3 separate regions of the Homo sapiens genome follow, and all the other regions are reported to be linked to region 2. Evidence: microRNA targets listed by miRTarBase, many of them from high-throughput screens and not tested one by one. Region 2 holds a microRNA gene; each other region holds the end of a gene's coding sequence.

Region 1 (3,260 bases), not on the chromosome of region 2:
AAATGCTATAGGAATGTAGGGGAAGGACCATTTCCAGCTGGATCATCAGGAGATTATAGGAAGCATAGGTTTGCCAGATGCAAAAGGGATCCAAGACCTTCTAGGAACTCAAAGGCAGGAGCAAAGGCACTCAAGTGAGAAACTGGGAACTGTTCAGAGTAACTGCAACAGAGACTTCATATATAGGAGAGGAAGAAAACGAAACGGAAGGGTTGCTTAGGATTACATGTAGAGAGTCTTAAAATGCCGGGTCAAGAGATTGAGACTTTATTAGTAGACACGGGAAGGTATTAAGGGTTTCTAAATACTACTTTCGGGTGTTGGGCAGTGGTAGGATAGAATGGAAGGCAGGAGACCAAGTAGATGACTGTAAAGCCCCCAACTATCCATTAAGTATATTAAGGGGGAAAACAGTAGATTATTTATCATTACAGTTGTACTTTCTGGGGAGGTCTGTGCTTTAAATATCCAACTCGGCCCTCTGAGGAAAAACTCACCCTCCTGTAAAAGGGACATATTTATTATGAAGACACAAAAACCATCACATACAAAGTACAATACTATAACATCCTGAAATACATATACACACATACTGTACATAAATTTATATTATCAATATAAAAATACATCATTAACATTTCTAAGGATGACAAATACTAAACCAATAAATATTGCAATTCTAAAACATCTACTTACATTAAGTGCTGGTGAATAGGATGACGGTAAAAGAAAGAGGACAAAGCGGACCAGAAAACCAACCACCTGGCTTCCAGTTACAGACTTGAGTTGGTTTGGGGGAGGTATCCCAATCAATTTCCCCAAACACTGAAAAGTGCCTGATGTCATCAACTCTCAAAAACAGAGCAAAGGAAGAATTTGACATTATGGCACTATTTTTTGGCCACATGCGCGCGCGCACACACACACACACACTCTTCAACCGCATTTAGTGAGATACAGAAATATCAATCGATAATAAGTTTAAATTAAAATCAAAGCCCCTACAACCTAACCTTCTATGTAGCACCCCAGCAGAATGTTTTACTTCTCATACTCATCTTTCCTATCTTGTGTTAAGTCTTTTTTCCTTTCAATAAGTAAAACTACATTGATGGTCAAATGAGAGAAAAATCCAGCATTAATTCTAGCATGAGAACAAGGCACAAATGTCAGAAAAGGTTTAATGGATCAGCTGTTAAACTGAAGAGTGCCATGCCCTAGCAAACACTCACGACTCAAAACCATAACTTTTCTTGTGTCCAAACACCATCAGACTATTGCCACAGGGATATTCTTTTTTTTTTTTTTTTTTTTTTTTTTTTTCTGAGACAGAGTCTCACTCTGTTGCCCAGGCTGGAGTGCAGTGGCATAATTTCGGCTCACTGCAACCTCCACCTCCCGAATTCAAGCGATTCTCGTGCCTCAGGCCCCCAAGTAGCTGGGACTATAGGCATGCACCATCATGCCCAGCTAATTTTTGTATTTTAGTAGAGACAGGGTTTCACCATATTGGCCAGGATGGTCTCGATCTTTTGACCTATGATCCACCTGCCTCGGCCTCCCAAAGTGCTGGGATTACAGGCGTGAGCCACCATGCCCGGCCCCAGGATATTCTTTTGTGCAAAGTTTAGGAAACTCCATGCACTTCTCAAAACATCAGATGCTGGGGACTGGCTTATACAAGAAATATGGAGAACACATATAATAGATTTTAGCCATGGGCTAGATTTTCAGATTTTAACAGAGACAGATAAGTGGTGAAGAACTCCATGAAAGTTGTATTTAAGTCAGAAGATTCTTTTTCGTGTGTGTGCGTTTCTATTATATAGATGAACTATTTCATATGTGCTGTCAGAGGGGACAATCCCACCATCCCATAGCATGTTACTTTAAGGTCAATTAGGGCTTCTAGCTTTCAACCAAATGGGAACTCCTATAAACCATCCCGTTTCTCTTGTCTTTCAGGCTATACTGACTTTCTTGCTTGAAGCTGTAACAGATTAATTAGAACTCAAAAGTCCTTTCTGTCACCTTCACATTGGTCTTTAGACAACCTTGGATGGGCCTTTCACTATACAAGCTAATTCCAGGAGGGACTCAGGGATCCCTCTGCCCGAAGTCAGAACTAGAAGGTGGGGCTGGGAAGTAAGGAATGAAAAGCAAATGGGACTATCATAAGAGGTATAGAAGTTTTAAAAAACAGATATACATTTCGAGAAGATTCTGGTTTCTTCAGCTGGGGATTCTGGGAACTTAGTATATACTGGAGAGTTCACAGGTCAGGCTGCATGGTCTGGTCCAGAATCTACTTGGTCTCTGGTCTCCTCACATCGTAAACACTTTCTAAGAGATCAAGAACAATTCAAAAGAACCCATCCAATCAACATGTCACAACTGACTGCCATGACTGAGTCAAATCAACCGTAAGATCCTGGGGCTCCTGAATCACTTCCAGAAATGAGAAAGCAGGACTTCGACCTTTAAGAATGATATGCCCTCAGCTGTTACCAATATCCGAGGCTAAGAAGGTTCAAGTCTGAAAGTTGATTGAGTAACTGCAATGATCCTTGGGTAGAGCAGATTCTTCTCTTGCTGCTGAATGTCCTCAGACGTGTAGAGTGCCAGGAGCAGGGGAGAGGGCAGTCCTGGAGGTACACCCTCTGGCCTCTCCCAAGCAAGCAGTGAGGTGTGCATTGTTAGAGGTGCACCGGGAAGGGAGCTTGGTTTCGGACCCCAGGACATCCTGTCCGCAAGCAGCTGCTACTTCTTGGGCTTCTCTAGAATATTGAGGAATTTCCCCCGTGTCATCTCTCTGGCTGGAATCACAAAGCAAACAAATGATCAATGAAAACCTAAAATCGGAAAAAAGAATCATAGGAAGATTTAATTTAAAAATGCAGATTGATTTAAATTATATATCAAGTTGCTATCACAACAGATTCAATCATCACCAACTAACCTAAAAGGGGGTAAAAACAAACCACTATAGACAACTAAAACTGTACAAAGCTATTCTGAAGTTGGCAATTGAGATACATGCCAAATGACTGGGAAAGATTTTATCATCCACCTTTAAACAAATCACCAGGGGATTCCCCCAAAACCTATCTCTGTCTCTAGAATCTAACCTAATACTCATGTTCACTATCTCAGGGGGTTTGCTCTTGAAGCCTAAAATCCAACCAAGATTAGTCTTCTCTGGGTTGCTGGTCTCTGGACATTTATAATCTCAAATCAAAATTAGAGATCATTTACCCTAT
Region 2 (3,260 bases):
TTATACACAGAACATTGTGATGAAATATACTCATTTTTTTTTGAGACCCTGTATAAAAAAAAACCAAAGTTCCATATACTATATGCTCACATAAAGCATAATTCCCACATATTGGTGCTTTGACAGCACACACAAATGAATGGGGTGACAGAGATTTCCATAGCCCCCGCACATAGGTGACACCCAAATTCATAATGGGTCCCATATTCAAAATTAGGAAAAAAGGCTGAGTGCAGTGGCTCATACCTGTAATCCCAGCACTTCGGGAGGCCTACGTCGGCAAATCACCTGAGGTCAGGATTCAAGAATGGCCTGGCTAACATGGTGAAACTGTGTCTAAAATACATATATATATATAGCTGGTATGGGGGTACATGTCTGCAATCCCAGCTACTTGGAAGGCTGAGGTTGCAGTGAGCTGAGATCACACCACTGCAGTCCAGCCTGGGAGACACAGAGAGGCTCTTTCTCCAAAAAAAAAAAAAAGAGAATTGCTTGAGTCCAGGAGGCAGAGGTTGCAGTGAGCCAAGATCACACTAATGTACTCCATCTCGGGTGACAGAGCAAGACTGTCTCAAATAGTCAAAGACAGAAAAAAAGAACAGGTCTCGCTCTCTTCTTGATTGTGTATGGGCTCACTTAAGGTCAGGAGTTGGAGACTGGGCTGGCCAACATGTTGAAACCCTGTCTCTACAAAAAAAAAAAAAACGAACAAACAAAAAAAACACAAAAATTAGCCGGGCGTGGTGGTGTGCGCCTGTGATCCCAGCTACTCGGGAGGATGAGGCAGGAGAATTGCTTGAACGTGGGATTGTGCCACTGACCTCCAGCCTGATGGACGGAGTAAGACTCTGTTTCAAAAATCGATGAGTAAATAAATAAATAATAAAAATACAAAAATTAGCTGGGTATGGTGGCTCATGTCTGCGATCTCAGCTACTAGGGAGGCTGACTCAGGAGAGAATGGCTTGAATCTGGGAGGTGGAGGGTACAGGGAGCGAAGTTCCTGCCACTGCACTCCAGCCTGGGTCACAGAGCAAGACTCCATCTCAAAAAAGAGGACCGCTGGGCACAATGGCCCACGCCTGTAATCCCAGCACTTTGGGAGGCTGAGGTGGGTGGATCTTGAGGTCAGTAGTTTGAGACCAGCCTGGCCAACGTGGTGAAACCCTGTCTCTACTAAAAATACAAAAATTAGCTGGAAGTGGTGGCAGGCACCTGTAGTCCCAGCTACTTGGGAGGCTGGGGCAGAAGAATTGCTTGAACTCAGGAGGTGAGCTTGCACACAAGATCGCGCCATTGCACTCTCGTCTGGGTCACAGAGCAAGACTCCGCCTCAAAAAAAAAAAAAAAAAAAAGAGGACCGTTTGAGCCTAAAAGATCTACGTTGGAAGTGCTACCCTACTCCAGCCTGGGCAAGAGAGACTCTGTCTTAGAAAAAAAAACAAAATAAAAACAGAATCCCACCATCATCCAAGTCTGATGATAAGCATGCTCTGCAAATGTATTACCAAGATCAGCATCAACTTCACTGTTGCTTTCCTCAAACAGTAAACCTCTAAAAGGATGCACTTTCTTTTCTTTCAGACAACAGAAAGCGCTTCCCTCTAGAGGGTCACAGCATGGGATCTTCTTGCTCCAGCACCCTGGGTTTTTTGTAGAAATTTTCCTTGACCAGGTTAAAATAGAGACAAAAATAAAGACCTATTTATTGGCTCTGTTTGCATGTTTTCTGGAATCCAGAACATAGACCCCTAAAAAGACCATCTCCCGTTCCTTCCTACAAAGGCTCAGCAGGTTAGCCTTGTTCATCAAGGGGAAATCCTCCTGAGTTTTGTGTCCAGAAAGAAAAAGCAATGCCTACTATGCATACCTTATATTTAACCAAGAGAATTGGGCTGGATTTCTAGAGAACAGCAGTGGATTTTCAGCCAAGTGTTCACTTGATTTCCAGCACAGGGACACACAGTCCTGATTAGAGCAGTCAAAATGGAATCTACCATGTTGAAGAATATACATTGTTGCACACACAAACATCCTCCAGGATAGACTACAAGGGAGGCCTTAAAAGCTCCTAAAGAAACCCTGTCTCTACTAAAAATACAAAATTAGCCAGGCATGGTGGCGCAGTCCTATAATCCCAGCTACTTGGGAGGCTGAGGCAGAAGAATCACTTGAACCCGGGAGGCGGAGGTTGTGGTGAGCCAAGATTGTGCCACTGCACTTCAGCCTGGGCAACAGAGACCCAGTCTTAGATAAAAAAACAAAAGAAAAACAAAACCCCAACATCATCCAAGTCTGATTATAAGCGTGCTCTGCAAAGATATTACAAAGATCAGCATCAACTACAACGTTGCTTTTCTCAGACAGTAAGCCTCTAAAAGGAAGCACTTTCTCTTCTTTCAGACAACAGAAAGTGCTTCCCTCAAGAGGGTCACAGCCTGACATCTTCTTGCTCTGATGCCGTGGATTTTTTCCTGGAATTTTCTTTGACCAAGTTAAAATAGACACAAAAATAAAGATGCATTTATTGACCCTGTATGCATGTTTTATGGAATCCAGAATATAAAACTCTATAAGGACCATCTCCAGTTCCTTGCTTCAAAGAATCAGCAGGTTAGCCTTGTTCATCAAGGGGCAATCCTCCTGAGTTTTGTCCCCAAAGAGAAAAAGCAATGCCTACTACACGTACCTTTAACCGAGAAAATTGGGCAGGATTTCTGGAGAACAGCAATGGATTTTAAGCCAAGTGTTCACTCGAGTTCCAGTACAGGACCCACAGTCACGAAGGGAGCATCCAAAATGGAGTCTACGATGTTGAAGAATATACACTGTCATATGCACAAACACTCTCCAGAGTAGATCACAGGCTAGGATGTAAAAACTACTCAATAAAATTTGAGCAGAAATACACAAGTACAAGTGGGGCCCAGTGGCTCAGACCTCTAACTCCTCGAACTTTAGGAGGCCCAGGCAGGAGGATCACCTGCCTCAGGAGCTCGAGACCAGCCCCGGCAACATGGCGAGACCCCATGTGTACAAAAATTACAGAAGTTAGCCAGGTGTGGTGGTGCATGCCTGTAGAGACTAATTCAGCAGGCTTAGGTGGGAGGTGGAGGTTGCAGTAAGCCGAGATTGCACCACCACACTCCATCTTGGGTGACAGAGGCAGATATTGTCTCAGAAAAGAACCACACACACACGCACACACACGCACACGCACACACACCCTAGGTGATATCGGAGTATTCTCTGTGTTT
Region 3 (3,260 bases), not on the chromosome of region 2:
TGAGTGGAAAATGGCAGCCAACATCCCTGCTAAGAGGTACTCTGACCCCTGTGTTAGAGCTGTTGTGATCTCAAATTCTCTATGTGTGTTTATGCGAGAAACCCACTTAAATGAGCGAGCTAAATACGTCACCTACCAATATGACCTGGAACTTGACCGGTGGTCTCTGCGGCAGCATATATCTGAACGTGTACTGTGGGACTTGGGGAGAGATTTTCGATGCACTGTGGGGAAACTCTATCCATCCTGCCTTGAAGAGTCTCCATGGAAACCACCAACTTATCTTTTTTCAACGGATGGGACAGAAGAGTTTGAACTGGATGGAGAAATGGTTGCACTACCACCTGTATAGTGGGGAAGTTCAGGGAGTGCACGCCTGAGTTATGTGCTTTGTCATTTTCTTTGCTAAACAAAAGAGGCTATGAAAGAACTAAATATGAGTACATAAAATTCTATCTTTGATAAATTTTATTTTTATGCCCTACTTAATATTTGCATCAGTATAATATATATCAGTGAGTCTTACAGAAAGATATGCTTCCATAATATGAAATAGATTATTCAATAATTGAGAAACTTTATGTGTAATCATGAGAGTATAAGAATCTGGATTATCTAACATTGTTAGCCCTGTGTATGTACAGTTCAAAAAGTTCATTTATAAAAGTAGTTTCCTGTTCCTAGTGTGATGTATCACAAATTGTGCTGAGGTTATTTTAGTATGTGTGTTTCATTCCCGTGCTTCTGTTCTGAAGTCCTGGAATACAGTTTTCAGTGTAATTAATTCAACTGCACTTAACACTAATGTCCGTGTTGGTATAGAAATGTCTAAATCCTATACTCTAGTTGAGGAAGATCTTCCATAATTTTATGGTATTACACAGGGAAAGCTATGACTGCAGGATCAGTCTAACTATACTATTAGGTGCATGTATTCTCTTTTCACTAACTTATACTTGTCTATCTAGAATACAGGTCTTCCAGTCAGCTGGTCATTTACCAGGTGTGGACTTAAGTTGCTAGGCTTGCAGTAAGAATTGCCAGCCACTCATTGTGCGGGTCTGCGTGGAGCTTTAATCAGAAAAAGCCTCCACTTTCTGTATTATGTTAACATTGGCTCATGCATATAACTATCTGCTGCTGATGTAGTTCTCCATCTTCAAGATTTAGAGTGGGTTAACCAGGTCATTACATCTTAATTTAATAACAAGCATTACTGTAGAGTGATTGTGTATAGATCTGTTAGCTGTCAGGGTGTGTTTTTTTTAACCTGTTGTGTGCGTGTGGGGGTTAGGATTAGTAAGGTGAACTGTTCAGGAATTCTCTGCACTAGCTGTGCAGAAGAGCAGATAACTAGCGCTGCTCTGGCATTAATCCCAGGAACCACTAGCAGTAGTGGGGCGCCGCCAATCTAACATGAGCACAGGTGCTTCATGACAAACATTACTAGCATGTTCAACTGCACCATGTTCTGGCACTGTATTTTGAATGACATTAATTTATTAAATAAATTGTATATATTCAATATCTATTTTTCTTTTGTTATGGGAATGGTCTGCTTTTTAAATTTTGATTTTGCTAGGTCAAACTTAGCTAGTAATAGGTGGTTTCTTCCAAATTTTGTTTGATGAAGATTGAGAGATATGCATAGGCTTTCCTTAGGCTAGTGTCTTTCTACCCTGCTGGCATGTTAGAATCATCTGATTCTGATCATCATCTTTAGAAGCTTGAGATGATGCCTGAACCTCACCCCAAACAAAATGGTTTCTTTTTAGAGCACATCATTGATCATGTTTATAGACTTGAACTGCCCCTCCACTGCCTACTGAATGAAGTCCAGATTCCTTACCACATTTAAGGCTCTCTCTAATTTGGCTTTAAATTACCTTTACAGCCCTACCTTGCATTGTTTTTCCATAAGCCTTATCTTCTGATTAGGCTTTCGCTATGCTTTATGCTTTTTTATGCTATTCATGCTACTCAGAATGGTTTCTTCATCCCAACTTTACTTGCAGCTGTCTCAAGAGCTATTTAAGGCAGTTTTTAAAGAATGTTTCCTGATAACCATGTCTTACCATGAGGTGAAAAGTATCCTTTCTCACATTTTTACTACCTTGTACCTAGATCTTATTAATTGTACTGATCATTCTATTGACTATTACTAGTTTTGGCCAGGTGGGGTGGCTTATGCCTGTAATCCCAGCACTTTGGGAGGCCTAAGTGGGAGGAATGTTTGAGCCCAGGAATTTGAGACCAGCCTGGGCAACATAGGGAGACCCTGTCTCTACCAAAAAAATAAATAAATAAAATTAGCTAGTCATGGTGGTGTGTAGTCCCAGCTACTAGGGAGGCTGCAGTGGGAGAATCACTTAACCCTGGAAGGTCAAGGCTGGAGTGAGCCTTGACTGTGCCACTGCACTCCATCCTGGGTGACAAGACTGAGACCCCATCTCTAAAAGATAAGATAAATGAATATTATTAGTCTTCATGCTTTTCTACAAAATGATCAGTGTTGATTGTCTTATTTACGGCTGCATCCCCCTGCAGTGTAGCACAGCACACTGTATAGTTGGTGATAAAACTGTTGGATTAAAGCAGATAAATACGAAGAGCTTTGGAAAGTTTGAGAGTCAAACCCAATATGCCAGTTTTTTAATTCTCATTAGTAGTTCCATTAGTAACCTTTTCACTTACCTCTCCATCCAGCTCAGATCTGTCATCTTAATACTTCTGCCACTATCATGGCAATATCTTAAACTCCTTTTGCCCTGTTGTCATTAACTTATAACTGACAAAACCTGAGCCTTACATGAGTACAACTCTATCTTCCTTACTACTTTTTTCTTTTCTTTTTCTTTCTTTTTTTTTCTTTTTTTTTTTTTGAAAAGTTGCTGTGTGATGATGGAGGCAGAAATTAGAGTTATGTAGCTGCACACCAGGGAACACCAAGCATTGCCTACAACCACAGAAACTGGAACATGAGCATGGCCATTGATACGGTTTGGCTCTGTGTCCCCACCCAAAATCATGTCGGATTGTAATTCCCAGTGTTGGAGGTAGGGCCTGGTGGGAGGTGATTGGATCATGGTGGCAGAGTTCTCATGAGTGGTTTAGCACCATGCCTCATTAGTACTGGTTTTATAGTGGGAGAGTGGTCATGATCTGTTTTTTTTTTTTTAAAGTGTGTGGCACCTCCCGACTCTCTTCCTCCTGCTCTTGCCATGTAAGACATGCCTGCTTTTCCTTTGCCTTCTGCCATG

The links. The annotated mature microRNA hsa-miR-519b-3p reads AAAGUGCAUCCUUUUAGAGGUU and lies in region 2 at 1,554-1,575, opposite strand. An mRNA with a match to its seed (bases 2 to 7 or 8) in the 3' UTR can be bound and repressed. Matches are read on the target gene's strand: a 7mer-m8 pairs with bases 2 to 8, a 7mer-A1 pairs with bases 2 to 7 and ends in A, and an 8mer does both.
Region 1: miRTarBase lists LIN52 as a target of hsa-miR-519b-3p. Seed matches in the 3' UTR shown: 7mer-A1 at 699-705.
Region 3: the mRNA of KBTBD2 is a reported target of hsa-miR-519b-3p. Seed matches in the 3' UTR shown: 8mer at 791-798.

What each region holds. Positions count from the first base shown.
Region 1 is chr14:74,198,478-74,201,737 of GRCh38, reverse strand. It overlaps LIN52 (lin-52 DREAM MuvB core complex component), which reads right to left. Exons shown (of 6, transcript NM_001024674.3): 6 at 245-2,816. The coding sequence ends at 2,761. Among named protein-coding and RNA genes, the nearest start is that of VSX2, 39 kb to the left of the region's middle.
Region 2 is chr19:53,693,578-53,696,837 of GRCh38, reverse strand. It overlaps MIR519B (microRNA 519b), which reads right to left and starts at 1,625; the gene lies at 1,545-1,625. MIR526B (microRNA 526b) reads right to left here and starts at 2,445; the gene lies at 2,363-2,445. It overlaps LOC107985342 (a long non-coding RNA gene), which reads right to left. Exons shown (of 3, transcript XR_007067332.1): 3 at 2,216-2,809.
Region 3 is chr7:32,866,437-32,869,696 of GRCh38, reverse strand. KBTBD2 (kelch repeat and BTB domain containing 2) reads left to right here. Exons shown (of 4, transcript NM_015483.3): 4 at 1-1,525. The coding sequence ends at 352. Among named protein-coding and RNA genes, the nearest start is that of KBTBD2, 24 kb to the left of the region's middle.